4 linked regions of the Homo sapiens genome follow. The protein of the gene in region 3 interacts with the protein of the main gene of each other region in a pairwise test. Each region holds a gene or a part of one and is shown on either strand. Other genes may lie near its edges.

The links.
Region 1: the proteins of SMO (region 3) and LEPROT interact in a two-hybrid assay, tested with the Homo sapiens proteins (one large-scale study listed by BioGRID and IntAct).
Region 2: the proteins of SMO (region 3) and EMC10 interact in a two-hybrid assay, tested with the Homo sapiens proteins (one large-scale study listed by BioGRID and IntAct).
Region 4: the proteins of SMO (region 3) and HMGN4 interact in a two-hybrid assay, tested with the Homo sapiens proteins (one large-scale study listed by BioGRID and IntAct).

Annotation. Positions count from the first base shown.
Region 1 is NC_000001.11:65,422,605-65,427,810, reverse strand, and holds part of LEPROT (leptin receptor gene-related protein), read right to left. Parts: intron 2,509-5,206; coding exon 2,433-2,508; intron 30-2,432; coding exon of another isoform or gene 8-29; exon of another isoform or gene 1-7. UniProt on the Homo sapiens protein: Negatively regulates leptin receptor (LEPR) cell surface expression, and thus decreases response to leptin. Negatively regulates growth hormone (GH) receptor cell surface expression in liver.
Region 2 is NC_000019.10:50,487,929-50,492,067, reverse strand, and holds the end of EMC10 (ER membrane protein complex subunit 10 isoform 2 precursor), read right to left. Parts: 3' UTR 1,197-4,139; downstream 1-1,196. UniProt on the Homo sapiens protein: Part of the endoplasmic reticulum membrane protein complex (EMC) that enables the energy-independent insertion into endoplasmic reticulum membranes of newly synthesized membrane proteins.
Region 3 is NC_000007.14:129,205,392-129,210,597, reverse strand, and holds part of SMO (protein smoothened precursor), read right to left. Parts: coding exon 5,186-5,206; intron 4,989-5,185; coding exon 4,816-4,988; intron 4,449-4,815; coding exon 4,229-4,448; intron 4,135-4,228; coding exon 4,011-4,134; intron 1,840-4,010; coding exon 1,747-1,839; intron 1,310-1,746; coding exon 1,201-1,309; intron 236-1,200; coding exon 50-235; intron 1-49. UniProt on the Homo sapiens protein: G protein-coupled receptor which associates with the patched protein (PTCH) to transduce hedgehog protein signaling. Binding of sonic hedgehog (SHH) to its receptor patched prevents inhibition of smoothened (SMO) by patched.
Region 4 is NC_000006.12:26,539,663-26,544,402, forward strand, and holds part of HMGN4 (high mobility group nucleosome-binding domain-containing protein 4), read left to right. Parts: intron 1-4,740.

The sequences.
Region 1 (5,206 bases), on a different chromosome or scaffold from region 3:
AAAAAAATCAGCTGGGTGTTGTGGCATCTCTAAAAAACAAAAAATTAAAATAAAGATAGAAAACAAACTTATTTGTAGTAGCAGTAATGAGTCATTTTCTTACCTTACAAAGACAGTGTATCACAGAGAATTAAAACTCCTAGATTTACAGTTGGTTGTGGAATAGTGGAAAAACGTTTGGTCAAGGGCGTCAGAACATGAGCTCCATTTCCATGTCTGCCATTTTAATTTTTTTTCTACTTTTTTATTTAAGAGACAAAGTCTCACTCTGTCGCCCAGGCTGGACTGCAGTGGTGTGATCACAGCTCACTGCAGCCTCCAACCCCTGGGCTCAACCAATCTTCCCACCTCAGCCTCCCAACCCTGCTACAGGCACCATGCCTGGCTTATTTTAGTTTTTTGTAGAATGGGGTCTCACTTTGTTGCCCAGACTGGTCTCAAACTCCTGGCTTCAAGCAATCCTCCTACCGTTGCCTCCCAAAGTGCTGGGATTATAGGCATGAGCCACCACGGCCGGGCTCTGTCACTTACTGCTGTTCAATCTGGGTAAGTCTTTAACTACCCTGGGCTTTGGTTTCCCAGCGAGAAATGAGGATAATAATACCGTATTACATTCCAAAAGCTAGAATAAAGTAATTGCTGTGAAGGCTCTAAACAAATATAAGTGACCGCTTATATCTGGATCCCTCTTGGGTTTAAACAATTTCTGTAATAGTTGGCCAGGACTGCGGTGATGGATTTGAATTCATCACTGTCATAATAACTCACTTCAATAGGTCTTAACCACATCATCATCATCTTTTTTTTTTTTTTGGAGACAAAGTCTTGCTCTGTCGCCAGGCTAGAGTGCAGTGGCACGATCTTGGCTCACTACAACCTCCACCTCCTGTGTTCAAGCAATTCTCCTGCCTCAGCCTCCTAAGTAGCTGGGAATACAGGCGTGTGCCACCACGCCCAGCTAATTTTTTGTATTTTTAGTAGAGATGGGGTTTCACCATGTTGCCTAGGATGGTCTCGATCTCTTGACCTCGTGATCTGCCCGCCTCAGCCTCCCAAAGTGCTGGGATTACAGGCGTGAGCCATGGTGCCTGGCCTAATCACATCATCTTCTATCTAGTTGTTCAAGCCAATCACCTGGGAGACATCTAAGAACTCTCCCTCCTTGTTGAATCCTGACATCGATGAACAAAACCTGTTGGTTGGTTTGGTTTCCTAACTCACTCTCCTTTTCTTTCCATTCCTACTGCCCCAGCCCTCAATTTTGCTTGATTTATGATAGTAGTCCCCTACTATTCTCCCTGACTGCAGTCTCAGCTCTTTCCTATCTAGTCTCACGTTATGGCAAGAATGACATTTTAACATAACCCCCTCCTCCAAACCCATTCTCAAGATATTTTCCCAGGTTCTATTGTCTGATGTATAAAATGGAACCTCCTCTACACGGCAGGCATATAGAGCCCTAAGTGCTGACTTTTACACTCTTGACTAACCCTTCTTTTGCCACTCCACTACAATTTATGCTGTACCATAATGTACCATGTGTGGTTTCCTGAAAAGGCTATATACACTTTCATGTCTCCGGGCCTTAGCATTCAGCTTTCCTGGTGCCTAAAGTGCTTTTTCCCTAGAGATCTGTATGGCCTGCTTGCTGATTTTCTTGACATTTCTTCTCACTTTTTACCTCCTCTGAGAGGCCCTCCCTGACCACTGTCTTCCCAGCTTCTGTGCTCTTCATCTTTTGTACCATTTCTACCTCTGACAGTATGCATACTTTTGTTGTTTACTGTCCGTCTCCCCCACTGAAACACAAACTCTGAGAGAGCAGGACCTTTGTTTTCTTATGTCTTAATCCCTAGTTCCCATAACAGTAGCTGGCACATGGGAAGCATTCAACCAACAATGGTTGAATGAAAAAATGTGTAGAATGTTCCCTCTGCCTGGAATGTCCTCCCCTGACTCATCACCCTGAAAAACTCTTATTCATCCACCTAGTCTTGGCTCAGATACAACCTCTGCCATGCAGCCTTCCCTGACTGTCCCACTGAAACTCAGGTGCACTTTATCCGAGCTCCAGCGTACTGTGCTGGCATCTCCACTGCAGCTGCCAGATTACTGACTAGACCGTTTGCCTGTCTCTCACTCACAACTAGAACTTTACCTCCTCTTTGAGGACAGGACTCTCTCTTCATTTGTGTGTCCCCAGCTAGTCCAGAGTAGGTGTTAAACAAATGCTTATGGAATGAATACATCAATTTTTAACAGAGCCCTCTGCAAAAGTACACCTGACCCACAAAGGGACTGTGTTCATAAACTGGGCTCCACTAACTCACTGGTTAGAACTTGGTGCTAAATTGACCGAACTCTCTAACACCCATACTAATAGTGACAAAGACACAGAAAGAGGAATAGTTCTTTTTGAAATGATAACTTACCCATAATCCTCTAAGGCACATCCCAGCATAAGAAAAGTCAGTCCAATAGCCCCACTGAAGGATAATGCCACGAGAGCTGTGAAAAATAAAGCCAAAAGTTAAAGTTCCCACAGTAGAGGTTGTCAGGCACTAGAGGGTTTGGGGAAATGGGGAGTGACTTCTAATAGGTCCAGAGTTTCTTTGGCGGATGAGTAAATTTTCTGGAATTAGATAGTAGTGATGGCTGCATAACCTTCTGAATATACTAAAAACCATGAAATCTTACACTTTAAGAATGTTAATTTTATGGTATGTGAATCATTTATCAATAAAAACATTTACTAAAATAAAAAAGAAAGAAAAAAAGGTCCCAAATTCAAGCAAATGTAGCAATTTACTCATTTTATTGAGGTTACATTTGACCCGTTACAGACTGCATTATGTGTGTCCCTTTCAAATTCACATGTTGAAACCTTCCCGGCTCCATCCCTCTCACCGTGAGATGCTATCAGGAGGTGGACCTTTGGGAGATAATTAGGTTCAGATGAGGTCATGAGGGTGGGGTCTCCACGATGGGATGAGTGCCCTTATAAGAAGAGAGAAAGTAGAGCACACACTCTCTCTGTGTTTCTCTCCCTCTGTTCTCCAATGTGAGAGCAGAAAGCAGGCCTGCAAACCAGGAAGCTGGCTCTCACCAGACACCAGATCTGACTGCACCACAATTTTGGACTTCCCAGTCTTCAGAACTGTGGAAACTAAATGTTTGTTGTTTAAGCCACCCAGTCTAAAATATATTTCTTATAGTAGCCCAAACTGATTAAGACAATGACCCATGTCTGCCACCTTGAAATCATAAAGTATACAAAGGTCTCAAGTAATTCCAGTACCTAACCCCTATCCAATGGATGAATTCCCTCTGTATTTGTCACCAGAGGGCAGCCAGTTGGTCCACATAACTCCAGTGAAGGAAAACTCACTACCTCCCAAGGCAAGTCATTTAATTCCAACAGCTTCTAAATGTTGAAAGCCCTCCTTCTTTAAATTATATCCAGAACTGCCTCCCTGTAATATATACCTTTGATCATTTTGCCTCCCCAAACCACAGTACTGCAAGTATTTGAAGATTGTTTTCATGTCTTTGTAGGAAACAATTCCCAACTAGTGTGCACTGAATAAAATATGTATTCCCTGTATCTATTGGACACTAGTCTCTGCGGGAGTAGGAACGTATTTGCCCTTGTTGTGCTGCTGAGTGAGAAACAGAGTATCAAGGTTGTTACAAAATCTTGAGCTCTGAGTCACAAACATGAGTCAAATCTTAACTCTGCCACCATCTGGTCTTATGACTTTGGGTAGAAGCTAATCCTCTGAACCTGATTTCTCACCTGTAAAATGGAAATAATGGTGCCACCTTATTGAGCTTATGGGAATTAAATGAGATAATCTATGTAAAGTGCTTGGCAAAAGGAGGTAGCCAAATAAATGCTGACTGACTCAGGTATCTACTCATTTTAGCAATGTTCTTTGATAAAGGTAGAAATCAAAAGCATAGGAGACTATCTTATCCAAATTTTCTTCTGAAAAAAGTCCATAATACTCATAATTAGTATTAAACTAATTAATTAAGCCAATGAACATTTTTGATTGCTTCCTTTTACTTGAGAGAAGATTTAGAGAGACTCTTTAATAGGAAGGTGCCAAAGTGCTTTTTAAAAAACATCTGAAAGTATACACATGTTAAGGGACAAAGAAACACTGTCAATTTTAACATATCTTTTTACATTTCCACTCTTTAATGGAAAATGCCCATGTGTGGATGGAAAGCAAATACCACATACTATTTCATTCAGATGATCTTTTCCCAGCAGGCTTTGCTCCTCTCCTCTGTGCCTGACCATCGGCAGTACCCCCTCCTCCATGAGGCCTGTCAAAGCTAGGTACTGCAGACCTCTTCCTTCTGTTCTGATACCAGTTTCTCAACGTTCACAACCATCTTTCTGTTTGATTCTTTTTGGTCTTTTTTTTCCTCTTTTTTCAGGAATCACATCCTCTGAATCTCTTAAAGTTGGAGTTGACCAAAAATCCAACCCCATCTCTCTTTTCACTCCACGCACTCCTGCTGAAAACTTATGTTCAACCCAAAGCTCCTACTACCACAAGGGCCCGGCCGCAACTGATGCTCCAGCCCAGAGTAGGTCCTAAAGAACTAGGCCTGTACTTCCACCTCCAGTCTGGACTTCTCTGCCTTGACCGCCAACAAGAACCTCAAATTCAACATGTGTAACACGTGTAAAACCAAACCACTATCCCTACACTTTAAAGGTCCTATCTTAGAGGACTGACACCATGATTGCATTCCACCTTCCAATGAATCAGTAGGTCAAGGTGACTCAATCTCCCAGACTTCTTAAACTCTCTGCTACAGCCCTGGTGCAGGCCCTTAACCTCTTATTCCTGCCTCTGTGACTCTTCCAATCCATCCTCTACACAGCAGACAGTGATCTTTCAACTATATATATCACCGCTGCCATCCCTTTGCGGTTGCTTCCACAGCCTACAAGTTGTTCTGGCACGGAGGCTCACCATCGCCTGACTCACTCCTAACTGCCTGTCCAGCCAGCTTCAACCCTCACCACTAAGTTCTGGTCTTACTAATGTAGCTTAAGTACCTGAAGAGAAGAAGGCATGTTGTTTCATAAGCCCTGCGCCATGTCACGTGCTGTCCTCCCCACTTGGGATATACTCCACCTTCACTCCATGCCTTGCCAAGGGAAGCCACATTGATCCCTTCAGAT
Region 2 (4,139 bases), on a different chromosome or scaffold from region 3:
TCTCTCTCTCTCTCTCTCTCTCTCTCTCCCTGTCTCTCCCATCTCTCGCTGTCTCTGTCTCATTTTCTCAGTCCGTCTCTGTCTCTCTCGCTCTGTCTCTCTCACTCTCTTGCCATCATTGTCTCTGTTTCTCTCGCTGTCTCTTTCTTTCTCACTCTCTCGCCATCATTTTGTCTGTTTCTCTCACTGTCTCTCTCTGTCTCTCGCTTTCTGTCTCATTGTCTGTCTCTCTCTGGCTATCTCTCTTTTACTGTCTCTCTCTCGCTGTCTGTCTCTCACTCTCTCTCTCGGTCTCCCTCTTACTGTCTCTCTCACTGTCTCTCTTGCTGTCTCCCTGTCTCTTTCTCTCACTCTTTCTCGCTATCTCTGTTTCTCTCAACGTCTCTGTCTCTCTCGCTGTCTCTTTCTCTCTCCATCTCTCGCCATCTCTCTCTCCCTCTCTGTCTCTGACACACTCTATTTCTCCCATCCTCCCCTCCATGGGGCTTTCCTGTTTCCTTTCCATCCTCACCTTCACTCGCTCTTTCCTCTCCGTTTTCTCCCTCACCCCACAAGCTCTCTCCCCTCGCCTCTAGTCCCCCAAGTCCTTCCCAGCTCCGCCTCTCCATGCCCGCTCCTTCCTTTCCAGTTCCTCTGCCAGTCATTGTCCTTGACCCTTCCCTCTCCTCGTCTCTGCTCCCACCGGCTCGTCTGAGCCTGGCGCTGACAGCCTTCTCCCCACCCCGCCCAACCCCACCCCCGACTCCCGCCATCCCCTCGCCTCCTGGTCCCTGTCCCCCTCCCGCGTCCCCGTCTTCTTGATGACTCCAACAGCTGCAGCTGCAGAGGCCCCGAGGCCCCTCGGAGGAGACTGGGCAGGGAGGGCTCCTCCGCATGCTGGGATATTTTTATCCTGCCTTGGACGATCGGGACGATTGGTCCTGCAATCTGTTTCACCCTTTAAGAAACTCATTTCATGTCCTGCCAGGTCCTGGGACCATAAGCTCGCGTGTCTCCACAGTTGCACATTCCCGTCCGTCTGCAGCTCATTATCTGGGCCACAAGGACGTTACCCCATGACTTGGAAGGACGCGCCATCACGCAGGAGGTCACAAAGTGGACGGCAGGAAAGCCAGCCTTCCCTCTTCTGCCTTCCTCCTCACCTCTCTCTCTCTCTCTCAGTACTTTGTTCTTGTTAATATCAGTGTATCAATGAGCCTGGTTTTTTGCCTTTTATTATTATTATTAACATAGTGAGCACAGGCGTTTCGTACTCTGCGTCTGATTTTCCAGCAGCGAAGCCTCTGCCATCCGCCCCACCGTCCCGCTGGCTCTTGCTCATTGTCTTTCCCTTCCCTGCTTGCCTGCTCCCTCACGCCCCTGCTCTGCGTGTTGGATGTGAAAAGGATGTCAGGGACTAGGCGGAGGGCATGTTCCTCCGAGCCCAGGCTGCACCTTGGCACAGTGGAGGGTCCACCCACCCCAGGTAGCCCAGGTGAGGCCCCTGGGTCCCCCTGTCACTCAGGCTGTCCACATGAAAGTCCAGATGTCTCCGACCAACAGATCCCTGGGAGAAAGGACGTGACGCTGCCGCTTCACCGGGATGGGTTCCCACGTCCCTCCGCGTTGACCCACAGCTTCCTTACGGTCTTGTATGTAGTTTGATGCTTTTAAGGGCCGGCCACGGTGGCTCAACGCCTGTAATCCCAGCACTTTGGGAGGCCAAGGTGGGCGGATCATGAGGTCAGGAATTCGAGACCAGCCTAGCCAAAATGGTGAAACCCCGTCTCTACTAAAAAATACAAAAATTAGCAGGCACGATGGCGGGCCCCTGTAATCCCAGCTACTTGGGAGGCTGAGGCAGGAGAATCGCTTAAACCCGGGAGGCGGAGTTTGCAGTGAGCCGAGATCGCGCCACTGCACTCTAGCTTGGGCAACACAGCAAGACTCCGTCTCAAAAAAAAAATTGTTAAGACTATTTTATCCAGGTTCCTACTTGTTTTCAGTTATGGGGTTGGGGGCGGGGTGGGAGGGCAATGACCTGACACAGTGTTACCGGATGAGGAGTCTGGTCTTGCTTTGCTTTCTCTGCCTTTTCTGTCTTGTCATTGGCTCTCCCGCCCTCCTACACGCACCCCGCCTGTTGCTTCTCTCATTCTCCAGTTCCCTTCCAATCCCCCTTCACTTCTCTTTACTCCCCTCCCCCAGGTCAGTGCTCGGCGTTTCCTCCCTCTTTCTGTTCTCCCATCCTCCCGGGCAGCTGTCTCTGTCCTGTTCTGTCTCCTGTTCTCCCGCCCCTCCAGCTCCTTCCCTTCCTCCTTTCTCCTGGGCCCTTCTCTGCCGCACCTTCCACAGCTGCTCTGTTCCTCCCCATCCTCGTCTAGTCCCATTCGTTGTCCTTTCTCTCCCTGGGTCACAGAGATGGCCCCGGGGTGGCTGCGCCCTGTTGAGGCAGGGAACGTTTCTGCTGCATGGCCGAGTTCCCAACCTGGACCCGCCGGGTCTGGCAGCCTGTCCCCGCAGTAGCCTGGGCTGTGCCCACGACACCCCCGCCGCCCAGCTACCCGGCCCTCTCCGTGCCTCACACTGGCTCCTAACCTGCTTCACGTTCCTGCTTCCTGCCCCGGTCTCTGGGCTGACGCTGTCTTAGGGGCGCCCCCTCCTCAGCTGGAGGGGCATGGTCCTCTGTCGCTACTTCCAATCCTCTCTCCCTTCTTTCTCTCCATATTGCTCTTCCACACTCATGCACCTCTTCTTTCCTTTCTGCTTTTTTTCTCGCTCACTCACCCGCTGGAGTGCAGTAGTGCAGCCTCCACCTCCCAGGCTCCAGTGATCCTCCTGCCTTAGCCTCTCAAAGTGCTGGGACCACAGGTGCGAGGCACCATGCCCGGCCTGTTCTTTTCTCTCTGCCCTTTTTTGTATTTTTTCCTTTCTCCTTTCCTTCTTCCCTAATGTCTGTCTCTCTCCTTCCCTTCTTAACTTCCCTTCTCTCTCCAGCCCTCTCCTACCCTCCTTTTCTCTTTTCCCCTATCTCCAGCCCTCTCCTACCCTCCTTCCCTCCCTCTTTCTCTCTCCCCCTCCGCACCGCTCCATCTCCCTCTCGGTCCAGTCCGCTGTCTGTGCCCCCTCTCTGTTCCGTTTTCTCTCCCACCCTTCTTCCCTCTCCCATTTCTTCTCTTTTCCCCTCTTCCTGTTCTCTTTTTCTCGCTGTCCTCTCTGTGGCCACCCTCCTTTTTCTCACTTCTGCTCTCCCTGTCCGGCTCTTCTCTCTCCTCTCTCCCTTCTAGCAGATTCTCTGGCTGTTTCCTCTCCTCTCCCTCTGTGCTCCTCCCTCCTCCTCTCTCCTCCCAGCCACTATCCTCTCTCTTCACCCTCTTCTCTTTCTGTCTCATGGTCTCCTCCTAGCTCTTTTCCTTCCCAGTTCCTAGCTCTCTCCTTTCTCTTTCCTCTTCTCTGGCTGGAGCTCCCCGCTCCTCCATCCCTCCCTCTCCCGGGGCCCCCTCTCCCCCACCCTCTTCTCCCCCAACACCCTCTCCCCCACCCACTTCTCCCTAGGACGCTCCCTCCTTCACCCGTTTCTCTGCTTCCCTCTTCTCCGAGCTCACCAGCCATGGCACCCACCCTCTCCCTCTCTTCCTTCCTGTCCCTTTTTTCACCCCCTCGTCTTTCTTTCCTCTTCTGTTTTTTCTTCTCTTTCCACTTCTGACCCCCTACACTGTTTCCTTCTTTCTCCCTCTTCCTCTCTCCCCTCCTGCTCTGGCCATCTTTTCTTTTTTTTTTTTTTTTTTTTTTTGAGACGGAGTCTCGCTCTGTCGCCCAGGCTGGAGTGCAGTGGCGCAATCTCGGCTCACTGCAAGCTCCGCCTCCAGGGTTCACGCCATTCTCCTGCCTCAGCCTCCCGAGTAGCTGGGACTACAGGCGCCTGCCACCATGCCCTGCTAATTTTTTTTTTGTATTTTTAGTAGAGACAGGGTTTCACCGTGTTAGCCAGGACGGTCTCGATCTCCTCACCTCGTGATCTGCCTGCCTTGGCCTCCCAAAGTGCTGGGATTACAGGCGTGAGCCACCGTGCCCGGCTCTTTCCTCCTGCTTTTTTCCTACACTCTCTCCTCCCTCCTCTCCTCCCTCTTTCTCCTGTTTGATTTCCACCTCTTTTCTCT
Region 3 (5,206 bases):
GGCTGAGGGTGAGGCGGGCAGGGCAGGAGGGGCTGGCTGCCATGCCCACCTGCACCAGGTACGCCTCCAGATGAGCAGCGTGGCCTTGGTCCAGACCCAGGTGCTCATGGCGATGCCAGTTCCAAACATGGCAAACAGGTTGATCTTCTCCACCAGAAGGCTCGGGCGATTCTTGATCTCACAGTCAGGGATGGGCTGCTTGGTGGGCAGCCCGATGGTCACATTGGCCTGACATCTACAGTGAGGGAACGTAGACAGGTGAGGCTTTCCTTTCTTTTCCTCTCTCTTTTTTTGAGATAGGATCTTGCTCTGTCACCCAGGCTAGAGTGCGGTGGCGTGATCACAACCCACTGCAGCTTCCAACTCCTGGGCTCAGGCAATCTCCTGCTTCAGCCTCCCAAGTAGCTGGGACTACAGGTGGGGTTTTCTGAGTCTACTGGGTAGACTCAGACAATCAATCCAAAAACTTTAGAAAGGGCTAAGCTCCACAGCACTGATCTCAACCCTGGGTGCTCATTAGAATCAACTGGGGAGCTTTTAATAGCTACTGATGCCTGGGACCCACCCTAGACAATTAAATTGAATCTCTGGGGCAGAGACTCAGGCATCACTGTGGTTTAAAGCATCCCAGACTGGAAGCCGGAACCTTTACGGAAGAGCCTGAAGCAGTCAGGGCTTGGACTAGCATCCATTTTAGCGACTGTCCTTGTAACAGTGGGTACTGCGCTTCTCTCAGCAGTAGCAATGTCTTACTCTCTCCAATCCATCCTCATTATGACACAAAAAAGCACAGGCAAAAACTAGCCAACATTAGCAGGTCATTAACCTATCACAGAGAGGTAACTAGTCCTGTGCCAGGATCTAAAGCAGGCTCTGCAGGAGAGCACACAGAATTAGAGGGCAACTTAGTGTCAGTCAGAGAAGACGAAGCTGAACTGGCTGCTTAACAGTCACACATGCACCAGCTGGGCAACCAAGGGGGTGGAGAGGGAAGGGCAGAGGTGAGAAGGGATGCGAAGGTTGTTTGCCACGTTTGAGAAACTACGGAGACTGATGCCTTATGCACCCAGACACCATCCATTGAATCTGCTGTCTGCAGCAGGGACCTGGCAAATCCCTGCTGCCCGGTGGGTGGAGGTGGGTGTCTTTATGGCCTTGGCTCCAGCTCCCAGCACTGCCGCCTCCATGCCCCTCACTCACAGCACATAGTCCCGGAAGCTGCGCTCCCACTCAGCCTGGTTGAAGAAGTCGTAGAAGTGGCAGCTGAAGGTAATGAGCACAAAGCCAAAGGCCAGGAAGCCAAAAATGCCTGTGGAGGACAGGGGCAGGACAGGACGTTACCAAGCCCAGTCCCGCAGCAGCAGTGGGGAGGAGAGAGTCTGCCCCACTGGGCCTCAAAGTTCACCCAGCTGGGGCTGGGGTGAACTCATGCTGGGCTCAGTCCAAGAACTGCTTTCTCTAAAATAAAATAAGAAGGGCACTTGAAGCAACTGTGGGAGGGACCACGTGGGACGTAGTGGGCAGGAGGAACCAGTCCCGGCATGAACTTGACTGAATTCTTCCCCCCGAGTAGACCCCCTTCTTTTGAGCTGCCACTACCACTACCACCTACACACACCCCTTGTCCTTGTCCCTATGGCTAACTTGTCCCACTGACTTACTGCATCCTGCCGGTCGCATAGCCCCAGGAGGGTGCAGTGTTGGGCTGGCCAGGACCTCAGACCGAAGTCCCCCGGGGCCACTCACCCAGGCGCAGCATGGTCTCGTTGATCTTGCTGGCAGCCTTCTCACTCAGCAGCCCGGGGTGGTTGCTCTTGATGGAGAACAGAGTCATGACTCCTGAACAGAAGGGGGACCTCAGACATTAGCAGGGGTGAGGCTGCCCTGCTGGGAAGGATGGGTGAGTGGGAGGAGGGTCCTAAGGCTCTGGAGTCCCAAGTCTGATTACCCCTGTGCTAAATGAAAACCTGGGGAGCTAGAGACACTGGAGAAATGGTGAGAAGACCAGGGCAGAGCCTAGACAGACACTTGAGAAGAGGGAGCCTCGGTCGTGGCCCAGCTGCCCCTGAAGAAGGGGGCAGATCAAAGCTGTTCTGATGGGAAAGACATAAAACAGACTCAAGAACAGCGCTATCCATATAATTTTTTTTTTGAGATGGAACCCTGTCGCCCAGGCTGGAGTGCAATGGCGTGATCTCGGCTCATTGTAAACTCCGCCTCCCAGGTTCAAGCAATTCTCCTGCCTCAGCCTCCCAAGCAGCTGGGATCACAGGCACCTACCATCACGCCGGCTAATTTTTGTATTTTTGTAAAGATGGGGTTTCACCATGTTGGCCAGGATGGTCTTGAACTCCTGAACTCAGGTGATCTGCCCACCTCGGCCTCCCAAAGTGCTGGGATTACAGGTGTGAGCCACCATGCCGGCCTTCCCATAGAAATATGTGAGCCACATACATATGGCAAATTTCTAGTGGCCACTTAAAAAAAGTTAAAAGAAACAAGCAAAACTAATATCAATATATTTTACAAACCTAATATATTCAAAATAAAATCATTTCAACATGTAATCCATGTAACAAATTATTAATGAGATATTTTACATTTTTTTCCCACTAAGTTTTTTTTTTAATACAGTGTGTATTTCACATTTTACAACACATCTCAATTTGGACTTGTTTCTTTTTGTTGTTGTCTTGTTTTCTTTGGAGACAGGGTCTCACTCTGTCACTCAGGCTGGAGTGCAGTGGCAAGATCATGGCTCACTGCAGCCTCAACCTCCTGGGCTCAAGCAAGCCTCCCACCTCAGCCTCTCACATAGCTAGGACCACAGGCATGTGCCACCCTGCCCAGGCAACTTTTGTATTTTTTGTAGAGATGGGGTTTCACTATGTTGTTCAGGCTGGTCTCGAACTCTGAGCTCAAGTGATCCGTCCGTCTCAGCCTCCCAAAGTACTGGGATTACAGGAGTGAGCCGCCGCACCCAGGCTGGACTAGTTCAACACATGTGGCTAGTGATTACCATACTAGGACAGCATGATAACGAAGCACAAATCAGAGGGCCAGACACTATGCCAAAAAGAGGGGAAAGAGGTGACTGAACAGAAGGCTGGCAGTTCAGGGTGAGGAAACTGAGGTTTACAAAGAAAACCCAACAACAATGAGCTAAATAGATGCTGAGGCTTACTATGGGATGGCAGCATGAGACAGGAAAGTTAGGGACCACTAATTCCACGCATGCTGTGAGAGCTGTGTGTGCCGGGGACAGAAAGAAGATGAAAACCAAGCTCCAGAAGATTGACAGTACATATCGAATTAATGTGCACACAGATAACCAAACGACCTAGGTTGGTCCAAGTGGGCAGAGTAGGTTACTCAGGGTGTTCATCACACAAGTGCACCGGCCAGGAGCTGACTGGGGCTGGATCCTGACCCAACTCCACCTAACAAGCTGTGAGGCTGGGCACTGTGGCTCATGCCTGTAATCTCCGCACTTTGGGAGGCTGAGGTGGTGGATCACTTTAGGTCAGGAGTTCAAGACCAGCCTGGCTAACATGGTGAAACCCCGTCTCTACTAAAAATACAAAAATTAGCCAGACGTGGTGGTGCATGCCTGTAATTTTAGCTATGGGGGAGGGTGAGGCAGGAGAATCACTTGAACCCAGGAGGCGAAGGTTGCAGTGAGCCAAGATTGTGCCACTGCACTCCAGCCTGGGCAACAGAGCTAGACTCTGTCTCAAAAACAAAAACAAACAAAAAAAACAAGCTGTGAGCCCTGGGCCAAGGCCCTGGAGAGAGGGATGGATTTTTCTGGCCAGTACAAAGGTGCTGTCCCGCAGCAAGTGCTCACGGTGTTTCGTCTGCCTAGAGGGTCACCTTCTACTGTGTGAAGGCCCTATAGGAGCTAGCTGGGGTTTCAGCATGGGGGCAGCCGTGCTGGCAGCTCCCAGTACTGGCAGCAAGTGCCCAGTATATTTTGTTGCCCAACTGGTCCTGGCCTGGTCTTCACTCACCTCGGATGAGGAAGTAGCCTCCCACGATGAGCACCAGGCCGATTGGGGCCAGCACGAAGCCCGCACGGTATCGGTAGTTCTTGTAGCCCACAAAACAAATCCCACTCACAGAGTCCCCATCCACCTGCAGCAGGAAGGGGTGGGACAGAAGGTGGGTTACTGGCCCCCTCCCTCAAACTCACCCCATCCAGGTCTCCCGTTCCTACCAGTCACTATACCTGCGCCACAGCAAGGATTGCCACAGTGAGGACAAAGGGGAGTGACCAGGTGAGCAGGTGGAAGTAGGAGGTCTTGCCCGAGAGAGGCTGGTAGGTGGTGCCCAGGGCTTTGAAGGAAGTGTGCCAGGCATAGGTGAGGACCACAAACCAAACCACACCAGCCATCAGGGCGTAGTACACGATGACAAAGATGATGACGCAGGACAGAGTCTCATTGGAGCTGTGCAGAGAGGTGAGGTGTCACTTGAGGCGGTCACTCTGTACTCCCTCTACCTGGTCTCCCCACCCTGTGCCCAGACCCTCAGCTGCTGAGGTCTGGAGGTTCCCAGAAGTCAGGGCTTGGAGACAGGACCCAGGTCAGATCTGAGGAGGCTCTAGGAGCCGCCCCTTTGAGCAGATACAAACCATGAAGGTCCTGATTCTGAAACTAAGATCCTAACACTGGAGATCTTGCATGCAGTATGCAGTAGGGCAGAGCCAGATCCTGCCCTGGATCTCGGTTTTACACGCACCTGCTCCCTTTGGGGTAAACGCACACTTCAGCCTTCCTCCCTGTACCTTCACCTCTGGGTCCCCAAGACACCTACGTGGGCTCCCCAAGCCTCATGGTGCCATCTGCACGGCAGACGATCTCTCGGCGGGCACCATCCATGAACTGGGCCAGCCAGCCAATGCTGCCCACAAAGAAGCACGCATTGACGTAGAAGAGAATAACAGCAGGGTAGCGATTCGAGTTCCGCCAGTCAGCCACGAATGTGGCCTAGAAGAGAGAAGTGGGCCATTCTGTGAGGTTAGGGTTATTCTGCTGACACAGACACCCTTAACTGAGCCCCAGACCCTTCTGATCATGACCCTTCCCTGGGGACCCCCACCAAGACCTCTTTGCCCCCCTTCCCTCTGGCTCTCTTCCCACGTTCCAGGCTGAGGGCCCCCCGGGCCTGCCCTCCCGCGGCTGACCAGGGTGAAGAGCGTGCAGAG
Region 4 (4,740 bases), on a different chromosome or scaffold from region 3:
AGAAAGAAAAGGACAATGTTAATGAGCTGTTTTCTTTTTATCATTTTCTTAAACAGGCTGCTTGGGTAGACGTTGACTTGAAAGGTCCATTCTTTTGTCATCTTGCTGGTTCCCTTAACAAGACAACACCTTGGCTAGCAAGATAATATCTTGGTTAGCAAGACAATAAACTTGGGCATGTGCTCAACAGCAACCTGTCTAATACATTTTCATTTAAAATCCCCTCTGTACTACTCAGAAATATAAGCAAGTTATTATGGTGCCCAGAAAGGGGGCAAAGGTTCCAGGGTCCTAGGAGATGACAAGGATTTATCCTCTTCATCTTTCTCCGATCCCAGTTAGCAGGAATACTTTAGCCTGGAAGGTGAGTGTGCCCCTAACCAACCTTTACAGATGGGTGACTGTTTGGGAGCTTATGGCTCACTCCTTCTCTTTAAAGCAGATGCATTCTGGCAAGCTGCAGCAGCAAACCTACCCTTTTAGACACCCTGCGTTTTCTCATCTTTCCTTTCTACCCCTGCATCTCCCAGTCTCTCTCACTTAACCTCCGTGGAAACTCATGCTGCGTCTCTAATACTTTGGAAGATGAAGAACAAACGCCCTGGAGAGTGACTGACACCATGTGACCTCTTGCTTCTGTAGCACACTGCATCTTGCCTGTGAATCTTTTTTTTTTTTTCTTTTTTTTTTGAGACCGGGTCTTGCTCTGTCACCCAGGCTGGAGTGCAGTGGCACAATCTTGGCTCACTGCAACCTCCGCCTCCCAGGCTCAAGTGATTCTCCTGCCTCAGCTTCCCAAGTAGTTGGGACTATAGGCATATGCCACCACACCCAGCTAATTTTTGTATTTTTAGTAGAAATGGGTTTCACCATGTTGGCCAGGCTGGTCTTGAACTCCTGACCTCAAGTGATCCACCTGCCTCCACCTCCCAAAGTGCTGGGATTACAGGCGTGAGCCACCACGCCCAGCATTTGCCTGTGCATTTTTTATTGTATTTTAATTATATCCTTTATTCTCTCCTTCCTAAGCTTGGTGTTCTTAACTTTCTTCCAGATCTTCCCTCCAACCCCCAAACACGATCTCTCCTTAAGTAAGAGGCAGGGAGGGAGAGGGGAACCTTCTGATTTCGGGGTGGGATTGAGGCTAAAACCCAAGTTAGAACTACCTCCCAGAAACCCAGTTCCGTATCCATCGAGTGATCAAAAAGATGCTGCTAAAATGTGCCTTGTGTTTGCTAGGGATGAGGTGAAAATGAGTATTGAATGAGGTGGCATTTTGGTCCATGGATTTGCTTGCTATGAAAGAGAAAAAACATGGAAAAATATATTTTGAGAGCTGGGTGAGACCCCCAAATTAATCTAATCCAAGATGTTTCCCTAGTCATTACATTCCTTTTTTTTTGAAACAGAATCTCACTCTATTGCCCAGGCTGGAGTGCAGTGGCGCAATCTCGGCTCACTGCAACCTCTGCCTCCCGGGTTCAAGCAATTCTCCTGCCTCAGCATCCTTAGTAGCTGGGATTACAGGCACGCACCACCACCCATGGCTAATTTTGTATTTTTAGTAGAGATAGGGTTTCACCATGTTGGCCAGGCTGGTCTCGAACTTCTGACCACCTTGGCCTCCCAAAGTTCTGGGATTACAGGCGTGAGCCACCACGCCCTGCCTGAGTCACTAAATTCTTACACTGTTCCCTCCTATGTTAGTCCGCTAGGGCTGCCGAAACAAGGTACCACAGGCTGAGTGACTTAAACAACAAAAATTAATTTTCTTTGACTTCTGGAGGATAGAAGTCCAAGATCAAGATGTCGGCAGGTTTGGTTTCTTCTGAGGCCTCTCCTTGGCTTGCAGATGGCCACCTCCCACTACATCCTTAGATGTGTTCCTCTATGTTGTCTGTATCCTAATCTCCTCTTCCTATAAGTACACCAGTAATATTGAATTAGGGCCCACCCATAATACCCTATTTTGCTTTTTATTTCACTATTAGTTTTTTTTTTAAAGCTATTTTTGCCAGTTAATTTAAACATCATGATCTTCTTCTAATGATAAAAATGCAAGTCTTCATGCTAACAAAAGGATTGGAAGAAGGATGAAGCAGATGTTTCTTCTCCCCTACAGCAATCTGGTTAAATGAGGAGTTAAATTGAGAGCTTTCATGAGAATTTCAGTCCAGTTCTGTGCAATGAAGACGAGTGATTCAAAACTTTCACTAACTTGCTCTGTTGTTTGTAATATAATGTTATTGGAAGAGTTATTTTAACAAAGGGGAACTGTTATATTTCTAAAACTTTTAAAATTGTTGCCATGTCTTGGGAAAATAACTTCAGTATCTGTCTTGATAATTTCTTGCCCTGATGATACCATTGAAAGTCATTTCTCTATGTTTCCAAAAGTTGTACAATTACTAGTAAGATTTATCTGCCAGTTAATAATTTTTCTTTTCTTCCACATGCATGAAGGAGTATTTGTAATGACTTTTATATTTTATCATTAACATTATTTTTTTGAACTCTTAAAATGCGTATTTTTTTTTTACATTAATAGACTTCCTTTTTTCAGAGCAATTTTTGGTTTACAGAAAATTGAGCAGAAGATACAGAGTTCCCACATACTTCCTTTCCCCCACCTCAGTTTCTCCTAAGTTATTAACAACTTACACTGGTGTGGTACATTTGTTACAAATGATGAACTAATATTGATAGCTTATTATTAACTAAAATATATAGTTTACATCAGGGTTCACTCACTGTATGAAGTTCTGTGGGTTTTGTCAAGTGCATAACATCTACCATTTTATAATATATGCCATTACAGTAGCATACAAAAGAGTTTCATTTACCTAAAAATCTCTTCTGCGCCACCTCAAATAATTTCTTCTGAGTTAAAACCACTGTGTGGTGAGAGCTCCTTCCTTTTCCAACCTCCTTGTCCTTTATGGAAATGGTAAGAGCTTTTACCCATCTCTCTGGTCCCTTTTCATTATGTGTGTATCTGTCTCCCACATTTGTAAGGTCTCTAGAGAGTCAGTGACCTGGTCTCCTAATCAGCTTCCTAAAGGTGAGTTTCAAGAATTAAATCCGTATTTATATACTCAGATACAGCATCCAGGCAGTGGCCTATTTTTCCTGATTTTATTTTGTCACCTGCTGTATTTTGGCCTTTGACATGTGGAGATCATGGCCCCCCTACTTCGGATGGACTTCAATGGATCTAACTCGAAGAAGACTGAACCCAGGAAAAGAGACTGTGTGAGCATTCTCACACCAGGAAATGGGCTGAGAAACAATTTTGGAGTGAGATGGAAGGAGAATGGTATGGAGTATCTATTCTTAGGGAAATGTGTGCTAGGCCAAAATCTCACTTTTTGGTTAAACACTCTCATTCTCTGATAACATAAAGGCCTCTAAAAATATATGCAGAATATTTGGGGTAACCTTATTATTCATTGCCCAAGTTAGGTCACCTTTCAAAGTAAAAGGGAACATTATGAATAATTATACTAGGGCAACAGGTATAAATCAAGTCACCCTACCATTAGACCAAGTGATTTTCACTGGTTCCTTCATTGTAAGAGTAACTCCTTTTGTTTCCTAAAAATTGTTAAAATGATTCCTTAATGTTGCATTTGAAATAAAGGGAAAAAGACAAAAATTAGCAATAAATTCATGTAATGTCTAGGCAAGGATTTCTTCAGAAGAGAGCAGGTCAGGTGTAGTTAGATCAGTAGAACTGTATGTCTCAGTGGCACCATTACCTTTTTTTTTTTTTTTTTTGAAGCAGAGTCTCACTCTGTCCCCCAGGCTGGAGTGCAGTGGCACAATCTCGGCTCACTGCAACCTCCGCCTCCCAGGTTCAAGCAATTCTCAGGTGGATCACCTGATGTCAGGAGTTCGAGACTAGCCTGGCCAACACGGTGAAACCCTGTCTCTAGTAAAAATACAAAAATTGGCTGGGTATGGTGGCGTGCGCCTGTAATCCCAGCTACCCAGGAGGCTGAGGCAGGAGAATTGCTTGAACCCGGGAGGCAGAGGTTGCAGTGAGCCGAGATCGCACCACTGCACTCCAGCCTGGGTGACAGAACGAGACTCTGAGACTCTATCTCAAAAAAAAAAAAAAAAAAAAAAAAAAACTGGAGCAATTTGGAGACAAGATTAAAAAAATAATAATAACATTGTAGAATGGTGGCCACTCACAAGGTTACAGAATTTCCCAGTAAATGTTTTCAAGGGTGGGGCAGAAGGTATGATAGACAAAAGCTTTAAAAAAGTCACACAGTGCCCATGAATGCCAGCCCTAGGCCTAAGTCCTAATTACTCAAACTCAAACTATTTTCCATTTCCTACCTGTGTGGCTCTCAATCTGTGCTCTGGGCTACCCACATTTTTTAGTACTTTTATTAATTCTTGAGCAGACACATACAATTTTTCTGTGTAAGACATAGGTAATACTCCAGCCATGTGCTTCCCCTACAGTTTAAAGAAGAGAATGCAACCTCCCCCATCTCTGGACTAACCTCCATGCCTTCTCCAACTACATCCCTTTCCCAACTCCCAAGAGATGACCACTGTCCAATTTTTATTTATCCCTTTTTTTTTAAGTTTTACTATATGTTTGTGGCCTCAACATGTCATAGTTTTACATGTGTAAATGGATCTATAGTGTACATATTCTTCTGCAACTTGCTATTTTTCTTCGGCATTATATTCTTGAGATTCATCCTCGTTTTTGAACCTACC